2 linked regions of the Homo sapiens genome follow. The protein of the gene in region 2 purifies or fractionates together with the protein of the main gene of each other region. This does not show direct contact. Each region holds a gene or a part of one and is shown on either strand. Other genes may lie near its edges.

Evidence for each region.
Region 1: the proteins of MYBL2 (region 2) and FOXM1 purify together in Homo sapiens (affinity purification with western blotting; 3 studies listed by BioGRID and IntAct, with this or other methods). This does not show direct contact.

The regions. Positions count from the first base shown.
Region 1 is NC_000012.12:2,857,155-2,860,441, forward strand, and holds the end of FOXM1 (forkhead box protein M1), read right to left. Parts: intron 2,638-3,287; exon of another isoform or gene 2,510-2,637; coding exon 1,484-2,509; 3' UTR 526-1,483; downstream 1-525. UniProt on the Homo sapiens protein: Transcription factor regulating the expression of cell cycle genes essential for DNA replication and mitosis. Plays a role in the control of cell proliferation. Also plays a role in DNA break repair, participating in the DNA damage checkpoint response.
Region 2 is NC_000020.11:43,705,050-43,712,341, reverse strand, and holds part of MYBL2 (myb-related protein B), read right to left. Parts: intron 7,124-7,292; coding exon 6,984-7,123; intron 2,380-6,983; coding exon 2,280-2,379; intron 855-2,279; coding exon 741-854; intron 1-740. UniProt on the Homo sapiens protein: Transcription factor involved in the regulation of cell survival, proliferation, and differentiation. Transactivates the expression of the CLU gene.

The sequences.
Region 1 (3,287 bases), on a different chromosome or scaffold from region 2:
CCTGGAGCCTCTTGTGACCCTTGGGCCCCTGGCTACTTTTCAGGTTAGACAGGCAGGGGATAGCACTTTCTTCAAGTTCTGACTGCAAAAAACTGTAACAGGAGCTGCTGCCGGGCAGAAGAAAAGCAGGGCAGGCTGGCTCCCAGGCCTCAGGGTGGGGATGGCAGTGGGAATGAAGCACCTGTAACTGGGCCCTTCCTGCCCTAATGTTCAGGGGGCCCTACCCCTCGTGAGCTTGTCTTATTAAGAACCCTCAAAAGGCCTAAGTTAACCAGCAGGTCCAAAGGTCCCAAGGAACAAGGTCAGAGACGCCAGGGAAAAGAGGTGAGCTGTGCAGGACTAGCACTGGGAAAACTGGCAATTTGTGTTGTCAAGTGTGTGCCTGTGCAAGTGCTCCAACTGCTGCTTTGGGTGAACTTCAGGCCTTGCCTCTTCCCTATCACCATCGTCTCCATCAACACCCTCTTTCTTTTCCAGCCTCTCCTGGTGCCTTAGGAATCAGACGCCAATAAACCACAGAGCCCAGCATGTCCACCTTCGCTTTTATTGAGTAGTTAGTGTTCTCAAGCTGGCTCACACCCATGCGGTCAGCTGGGGCCTAGGGTGGCTCTTTGCAAAGCTGAGGGGCAAGCTAAGGAAGCCAGGCAGGTCAGGGGCCCTTTCGGCCTTCTCAAGCCTCCACCTGAGTTCTCGTCAATGCCAGTCTCCCTGGTATGATTGGGGACATTATCAGAGAAACATCTAATAGCGCACATCTGGGCACCCACACTCTGCTTCAGTTGCATCCATCCTCCCACCCCAAATTCAACTCCTGACCCAATACAAAAGACTTTTTTAACCAGGATTTCTTCTTGCAGGAAAGCTGACTTGGAAACACGGGGAGGTGGCAGGGAGGGGCAAAAAGGACTCTGGCAAGCAGATCCACTTGTCTGGGTCCCTGCAGTGAAGAACCCAAGATCCAGGTACCTCAGCCTGGAAGAAACCGTGCACTGCAGGTCTTCCCTTCTATCAAAACTAAAAGCAAGGAACAGAAGTCAATTGAAACCCCAGGTCATCCTACCCACCTTCTGGCAGTCTCTGGATAATGATCTAAGGAAATAAGCTTACATTTATAATTAGAGGATAATTTGGAGAATTTATACTATTTACACGGACCACCCTGCAAAGATCAGGGAAGGTAAGAGACTGCTGGGCAGAGAATGGAAACAGGCTGGGGGGTTCCTAATCTCTTTTCACCATTGCCTTTGTTGTTCCCACCCTTCAGCTCCTGGCAGGGACAGCAGAGGAATCAGATACTCTTGGGGAACACAAGGTCCCAGCAGTGGCTAGGGTGTGACTGCTACTTTTGCATAATCAGGCAGCAGGGAGCTATGAGGAGCAGAACAGTCCCTGCCTGCTGTCCTCACTCAGAGGCTTGGGGTGCACTGAGCCTTGGAGTGCCCGGGATGGTGGACAGCTTGAGCACAGGGGCAAGGGCAGGGCTCTACTGTAGCTCAGGAATAAACTGGGACCAGTTGATGTTGTCAGGGCCCAGTGGGTCCTCGTCCAGGCCAGGAAAGCTGATGTCCAGCAGGATCTTGCTGAGGCTGTCATTCATTGTGTCCAGGACCAGGCCTTCTGTCAGAGAACGATTGGCTGCAAGGCCAGAAACCTGTGGCTCCGGGGAGCCTGGCTTGGGGACGTCTATATCTGAGGGAGAAGAGTTGCCAAAGGGGACGGAGATGAGGTCTAAGGGTTCTGAACTGAGGAGCCTTTGCGGTGATTCAAGGGGGGGAGCACTTTGCAAGGGAGTGGTGCTGAGATCCATCAGCCCCAGGGGGTCAGGCAAGGGGTCAGAGGCACCCTGGGAGGTTTGTACTGGGCTGAAATCCAGTCCCCCTACTTTGGCTGGGGGCGTGAGCCTCCAGGATTCAGGGGTTCTGGGGAGGACAGATTTGCTCGGGGTGGAGGAGATGGGCAGCGTTTCCTTAATGGGTGTCTTAAAAGGTCCTCCCACTTCCTGGGAGTAGCTGAGCTGGGAGGCAGGGTCAGAGGAGTCTGCTGGGAACGGGAGCTCTGCGGCCCAGCGGGAAGTACTGGGCCCCTCTGAGAAGAGCAGCTCCGGCTCATCCACACAGGGAGGCAGTAGATGCTGTTTTCTCCGAGACCGGCTCCTCTCCCTCCTCTCCCTGTGTTGAATCACAAGCATTTCCGAGACACACCGGGTTGGGGACCTAAGCCCACTGTAGGACTTCTTGGGTCTTGGGGTGGGAGATTGGGACGAATCCTCCCAGGAGTGAGATGATTCCTCTTTGAAAGATGGGGCCGGGGAGGGCCACTCTTCCAAGGGAGGGCTCTCCACTTTGATGGGTCTCGCTAAGTGTGGCATTTCCTCCCCAGGCTGGATTTCTTCCTCCTTGATAGTCTGAACTGGAAGCAAAGGAGAAAACCCTTCTCCAAACAGGAGTTTCTCCTCTTTCCCTGGTCCTGCAGAAGAAAGAGGAGCTATCCCCTCCTCAGCTAGCAGCACCTGAAAGGGAAACAGAGATAAGGTGAACCAACGGTCACCAGACAGGACGCACAAAAATATCACATACGGGTTCTGATCCTCTTTGTGTCGTTTTGAAGTCTTAAAATCTATTAAATATGAGAATACGATGTATGTTGAAGTTGGTAGTTCAATTCTGGGGGTAAAAGATGCGGGTATGTAGTATGTAGTGGCATAATTATAATAGCATTCATCCGAGAGGAAATAAAATTGCATGCTTGTCTTACACTGTATACAAAGATTTAATGCATGAAAATAAGAACCTTAGGCTGCTCTGATGGTAGCGGGTAGTGACATTATTGTCACTAAAGTTGGTACACAACCCCCAACTGCTAAATTTGACTGGCTTTAAAAAAAAAATGAAAACCTTAAAATCATACAAATCCTGAAAGAGAATCTAGGAGACTACATATACAATCTGAGGGTGCGGGTGACCTTCTTAACCAAGACTGGAAACCCAGAAACTGTAAAAGAGAAGAGAGACATTTGACTACATAAAACTTTAAAATTTTACTGTGGCAAGAGATACCATAAACAAAGTTAAGAAACAACAAACAATGCCTGTAATCCCAGCACTGCAAGACACTGAGGCCAGTTTGAGACCAGCCTGAGCAACATAGTGAGATCCCATCTCTACAAAAAAATTTTTTTTAATTAGCTGGATGTGGTGGCATGCACCTGTAGTTCCAGCTACAGGTGGGAGGCTGAGGTGGGAAGATCACTTGAGCCTGGGAGGTCAAGGATGTAGTGAGCCTTCATT
Region 2 (7,292 bases):
CCAGGCTGACCGCCCACCTCCCCTCCTTACCTAACACCCTGTACATCCCACCGTTCCCAGCTCTCCCTTGAGGAGAGCAGTCTGGGAAAAAGGAGCACTAGGAGACTCGAAGGGATCGCGCACTGTCATGAAAGCTAACGACGCAGTGGGAGGGAGGCTGGCATAGAACGGAGGCTTGGGACAGTCCCTTCCCTGCCCCCCTGCCCAGGAGCCCCTGCAGACTCCACCTCACCTGAACCCACTCCCCCACCCCCAGCTCATGCAGCTTGACACTCAGCCAGGCACTGCCTGGCCTGGCTGGCTCATCCCGACCGCCTCGCCTCCACCCAAAAGATTCCTTTGGAACCTCCCTTTCTGCGGCCCTTGGTACCCTGTGAATTCAGTCATGGTGTGTCTGTCTAGCATCTGTCTCTGCCCCCTGAACACTAAGGGGAGATCCAGTCTGGGTCGTAATTGCTGCTCCATCCACCACATCCAGCCCAGCCCAACTTGAGCAGGGTCCGAACACAATGCTGGATAAGTAAGTGAATCCTTCAAAGCAGAGCAGAGGAGGGTCCCAGAGACACTGTCCTTATCTTGTCAGTTTCCTCAACAACCACCGTGCGAAAGGGGGCAAAGGGGATATGCTACGCCCCCATTCTCCCCAGCGCCTCACTTTCTACAACCTGTCCCCAGACGCCTCCCCCATGCCACGGCTCCAATTCCCCCTGCCCAGGCTCTCCCACCCCTACCCTACTCACCCCAGGCTTCCTCTTCTGCTTCTCGGGCCTGATGTCGTCCTCGATGATGAGTTCGATGCCAGCCTCAGAACGCAGCACCTCCTTCAAGTCCTCCTCCAGGTGCGGGGTCTGTGGCTGTGGGTAGGCACGGGGCAGCCCACGTGAGGCACCACACTCGGGCTGTGTGTGTGTGGGACTGTGGGACCAACCCAGCTGCAACTGGGCTGTCCTGGGTAAGGCAGGAAGGAGGCCTGACGCCAGGATGCAGATCTCACACGCACCATTCACAACCACTAACTGCTGCCTTGGACAAGCAGCTGATGACCTTGATTCCCAGGGGCCTGCCATGGCTGGGAGCAGCCCAGAGACGCACTGTAACCCTCACACAGCCCTGTGCAGTAACCGTCATTTTAAGCAGGTAGAAACAGAAGCTCAGAGATCAACAGCCTGGCACACAGTCACACAGCTGCTGAATTAGGACCCCGACAGCTCAAAGCCCAGGCTCACTCAACCCTTTGTTCCACACTAATGGGGGCTCTCAAACCCATTTCCCTTTCTCAGGCCTCGGGGTTCCAAGGACCTCTCCAGCTTCAGGCAACAGAGAACAGGGGAGGGCGAGTGCTACTAAGAGTGAAAGGTGCGAATCACAGCCACTCCTCATAAGTCATCCGAAAAGCCCCCACAAACTTTAATTACAGCTGCCAAGGTCATGTGATTTGCCCTCACACCTGTTTGGAGAGCATGCAGATATTTTAGTACAGAGGAGCCAAATCTCCACTGCAACAGGAAAGGAGCACTAACTAGTGCCTCACCTCGGCTCATGTAGCATGGTCCGTGGAAAGTCTGCTTGACTCAGAATCAGTTCCATGGCAGGCCCAAGGGAGCCTCAGCCCCCAGCCACCTTGGGCTTCATAGGAGGCTCCATGCAGTGGAGAGAGACAGCAGGGGGACCCGCTGCAGACCTTGTTCACAGTCCAGTGCCTCCACAACCATGCCTTTCTCTCACCCTCCACTGATTTCTAAAACACCTGTGTGTTTCAGAAAGCCCAAGGTGCCAACTCCTTTTTTCATAGAGAAAACACAACCATCCCATCAACTGGGAAGAGCAGGGGAGAAGGGCAGCCTGCACACTGCAGGAAAGACGTCCCCGAGGGGCTTTCCCGTGCTCTGTAGAGAACTGGGAGTTGGTCAGAGACAGGCCAGAGTAGCAATTTGCCACTTCTCTGAACTAGGCCCAGTGCTTATCTTTGCCTGAAAGTGTTTAAGTTATTTGTATTTCACATCAGTCTCCCCCATCCTGAGGCTGAGTGTCACGGGATACCACCATGTCTCTAGCACCAGCCGGCGCGTGCTTGCAAACTCAGGTGCTCAGGAGCAGTCGGAGGAAGTGACAAAGAGCAGCCTCAGCTTCCCCATTTATATTATCAGGATCTCTGCATCTTCTCAGGAGAAAGAATCAAATGAGACCTCAGAGGGAAGGGTCCTGTGGACTGAACATGGTTGGATGAACCGAAGGGATCCCACTGTGCAGAGATCCACGGCAGCGACCACACCACGTACCAGGGGCTTCAGGGGTCCGTACTTCTCCAGGGCGTTCTTGAACGGGGTTGGCGTGTGGGGAGTGTTGTCCATGGAGTACTTCTGATCTGGGGTTACAAACCTGCCAGGGGCCAGAACGGGGGAACTAGTGACAGGATAGGGGCCGACGCCAGGCACTCTGCTGCCCTGGCTCCACCTTCCCCCAGTGCGACCTTTGGCCCCAGCACAGGTTCTCGTCCCATCCCTCTCCCCACCCTGCAGGTCCAAGTCAGGGGCTCGGGGGAAACAGAAGGGAGAGGGGAGTCTAAGAGGGGCCAGGAGCCCCAGACAGGTGGCAGATAGCCGAGAATGCTGCTCAGTCATGGTCCAGACTTGGGACTTTCCAGAAAACAAGGCAGTCCGTGGCCACACTTCAGGAACAGTGAGAGGGGGCACGGAGCAAGGTGGGAACCCAGGAAGATCCCATCCTGCCCAGCTCTCCCTGGAGAGCCTGTGTGAGAAGGATGGTGGCAGCACAATGAGGGAAAGGAGGGGCGAGAGGTGAGGCCAGCATCTTCCCAGGTCTCCCAAGAGTTCACCGAGGTGATGGACACGTGGAGGGAACCCTTCAGCAGAACAGAGAAAAACCCAGGATGGTCTGGTCCAGAAGCAGAACTATAAGATGCTTCTATCAGATGTAGACCCACCATGGGTGATTTCCACCTGCCCTAGAGCAGGGGGGCAGAAAAGGCACCTCACGCCCCAGAGCGCCAGGGCTGGTGGTATGGGGCTGGGCCAGGCTGGCTGTGGGCAAATGTCAGCTCTGAAGGAAGCTACCAGGTTCCACAAACACGAACCCTTGTGTGCTGGTATGTGACCTTAGTCACCTGGAGATACCACCATGGCTGACTCTCATGGCATAACCAGGGCACTCAGAGGATGAGAGAAACACCCCAGGTAGCCAGGGACCTGGGTGATGAGGCCAACTCCTAGAAACAGCAGCCTGGGGCCTCGCCGCCTCCACTTCCCGCAGCTGGCCAGCCACTCCATGGGGAGATAAAAAACTAGAACAAATGCAGACCATTCTTTTCTTCCTTCCTCAGGACCTAGAGATTAGGCAGGGATCCACAGTCTCTTCCCAAACCCTTGTTATCCCCCATCTGGGACACACAGAGATCCCCCTCTGTAAGGAAGAGTGAAGACAGATAAGCACAAGTCAAATGTACACATCTTACAGTTCAAACCACAATTCACAGAGGTGAATCTGAGCCACTCAAGCATCTCCATGGGACATGGAGTTTCTGAGGAACATGAGAAAATTCCAGAACCTCTCTAATTCGTGGCATCAACAAGGACTAAGAGCACACACATGGCCAAAGGCAGTGGTTCACGCCTGTAATCCTAACACTCTGGGATTAGTGTTAGGCTGACAGGAGAGGATCACTTGAGGCCAGGAGTTAAAGAACAGTCTGGGTAACACAGACTCCATCACTACTAAAAATAAAAAAATCAGCCAGCCATGGTGGTGCTTGTAGTCCCAACTACTCCAGAGGCTATGGTAGGAGGACCACTTGAGCCCAGAATTCAAGGCTGCAGTGAGCCATGATTGCACCACTGCACTCCAACCCGGGTGACTAAGAGAGACCTTGTCTCGGAAAAAAGAAAAAAAAGAGTGTATATACACACATTAGAAAACTCAGGGAGAGGCCGGGCCTTGTGGCTCACCCCTGTAATGCCAGCACTTTAGGAGGCTGAGGCGGAAGGATTGCTTGAGTCCCAGAGTTCAAGACTAGCCTGGGCAACACAGTGAGACCCTGTCTCTCAAAAAAACAAAAAAATTAGCCAAGCATGGTGGTGCACACCTGTGTTCTCAGCTAGTTAGAAGGCTGAGGTGGGAGGATCACTTGATCCTGGGAGGTAGAAGTTGCAGTGGGCCATGATCACACCACTGTATTCAACCTTGGGGACAGAGCAAGACTGTCTCAAAAAGAAAACTCAGGGAGGCAGGGAGGCTGACTTGAAAAGGGAATTCAAAAGATTGCTTGGAGATAAAAAATGCAGCTCTGTAAATCAGAGAATTCAGCAAGTTGGAAACCACAGACAACCAAACTGGTGAATCAGAAAACAATCCCATCATGTTCTCCGAAGATTAAGGAAATGGCTTAAGATGGTGAAGAGGCGTATGAAGACGAAAAAGACACAGAGACCAATCCAGCCTATATATGAAGGAATTCCTAAGGTAGGAGAAGGGGCAGACAGGGAAAGAAAAACTAAAGAAATAAACACTTCCTCAGCTCAAGGTTTGAATCTTTAGTCTGATATGAAAGCCGGGGGGGAAAAAAATAGAGAAATACCACACCACCATACAGCCTGTCAAATTTGAGGGATAACTAAAGAGACTCTCTACAAAGGAATAACAGCTGGATTACAGCTCACGCCTGTAATCCCAGCACTTTGGGAGGCCGAGGCAGGCCATTTGAGTCAGGAGTTCGAGACCAGCCTGGCCAATATGGCGAAACCCCATCTCTACAAAAAAATAGAAAAATTAGCAAAAAAATATAAAAATTAGAACTCATCACCAGCAAGCCCACACTACATGGTTAAAGGATGGCCTTCAGAAGGAACCAGATGGAAATATGGATCTAAAGAGGAATGAAGAGCACTGGAGATGCTTCTTCCTATGGAAAAAAGGAATTGGAAGGAGGCAGCAAATGAGGCCACATGGATAAGAAAGAAAGGGAGAGAGAGAAGTATCAATGCCTTTTGTAGTGACAGCATCTCTGTTTAAGGGCTTAGATGCGAAGTCCAAGATTCTGGTTTGAACGGACAATCATTTCTCACGAAACCTATCTAAGTTATGCTTTAGATCAACTCTTTAGAGACTGATTTCTTTTTTCTCTTTTTTTTTTAAAAAAAAAAAAAACTAGAAAGAGAGTCACGCTTTGTCACCTAGGCTGGAGTGCAGTAGCCAATCATAGCTCACTGCAGCTTCAAACTCCTGGGCTCAAGCAATCCTCCCACTTCAGCCTCCCGAGTAGCTGGGACTACAGGCACACACGGCCACGCCCAGCTAATTAAAAAAATTTTTTTTGGCTGGGAGCAGTGGCTCACACATATAATCCCAGCACTTTGGGAAGCCGAGGCGAGTGGATCACAAGGTCAGGAGTTTGAGACCAGCCTGACCAACACGGTGAAACCTCGTTTCTACTAAAAATACAAAAATTAGCTGGGTGTGGTGGCGCGTGCCTGTAATCCCAGCTACTCAGGAGGCTGAGGCAGGAGAACTGCTTGAACCCGGGAGGCGGAGGTTGCAGTGAGCCGAGATTGCACCACTGCACTCCAGCCTGGGTGATAAAGCAAGACTCCATCTCAAAAAAAAAAAAAACTTTTTTTTTTTTTGTGTACAGACAGGGTCTCCCTATATTGCCCAGACTGGTCTTAAACCCCTAGTCTCAAGTGATCCTCCCACCTTGGCCTCCCAAGCGCTGGGATTACAAGTGTGAGCCACTGAGCCGGACTTTGGAGACTGATTTCTGACTAAGGGATTCACAAATCTTTTCCCGAAATTATGTATCACTATCAGGGCTAAAATTCCTGAGCTGATTTCTGAATCACAAAATAGCGATTTCCTCCTCCAGCAAATGTATCAAGCAGAGGAATAGTTAAGCAACTCTCTCTACCTGGAATTTAGAATCATGATGACCCAAGGAAGTAAACTTATTGTAAAAGCACTTCCATTGTAAAAGCAGGCTGGCGAGCAACCTGTACAGGCTTCCAGACAGAAAATGTCATGCTCCGTAAGCTCAGAGGACAGGAATGCAGTCTCCACTCTTGATAGAGGGATGGGCACTTTCGCCCTGCACATAAGGCTGCTCAAACACAACGAATTTGCACCTGAAACCTTAGGAAGCGGAAGAGATTATGTTTTTCAGGCTAATTTGGACTCTCCATTCCTGAGACAGAAAATTATCAAATGAGGGCCAGGTGCAGTAGCTCACGCCTGTAATCCCAGCGTTTTGGGAGGCTGTGGCAGGAAGATCACTTTAAGGCCAGTTCAAGACCAGCCCAGATAAAGTAGCAAGACCTCACCTCTTAAAAAAATTTTAGCCGGGTGTGGTGGCTCACGCCTGTAATCCCAGCATTTTGGGAGGCTGAGGCAGGAGGATCACGAGGTCAGGAGATCGACACCATCCTGGCTAATACGGTGAAATCCTGTCTCTACTAAAAATACAAAAAATTAGCTGAGCGCGGTGGCGGATGCCTGTAGTCCTAGCTACTCGGGAGGCTGAGGCAGGAGAATGGCATGAACCTGGGAGGCGGAGCTTGCAGTGAGCCAAGATCGCGCCATTGCACTCCAGCCTGGGCAACAGAGCAAGACTCCATCTCAAAATAAATAAATAAATAAATAAATAAATAAATAAATAAATAAATATTTTTTTAATTAGCTGAGCATGGTGGCATGCACCTGGAGTCCCAGCTACTCAGGAGGCTGAGGCAGGAGGATCACAAAAAAGGAAACTATCAAATTAAAAAATACAAATGAGGAAAAGCAAAGGTGGAGCCCAAAACTATATCGATAAAAATGATAAATCGTGGTGGCCAGAAAGGAGAGGGCTTTCTTAAAACAGTCTTCAGTGTTATTCCAAGGGTGCCCCCTCCCCACTGTTCCACCAGTGGTCCCAAGGCCCATGGTCTGGTGTTGCTGAGGGAGAGGACGGCGAAGGTTGGGGGCACTGCAGCACTCACGCAGCATGTTTCTGGTGCAGGGGTGTCTTGTCCCGGTGCAGTGGTGTGGTGACCACCACCTTCTGGCTGCACACTGGGGTGGATGTCAGCGAGGGGCTCTCCAGCTCCAATGTGTCCTGTTTGTTCCAGAAGTTCAGAAACTGCCAAAGAAGAGAGAGGGAACAAGACAAAATGATGACCTGCATGAGTATCCCTGAGACCTCAGGGGATCATGGGGAGAGATCCTTGAGCCTCTCCCCCAAAACGTCTGCTCTGATACTGAGGTCCCCTCTTGACCCATCAGACACCCGAGAACAAGGACTGGGACAG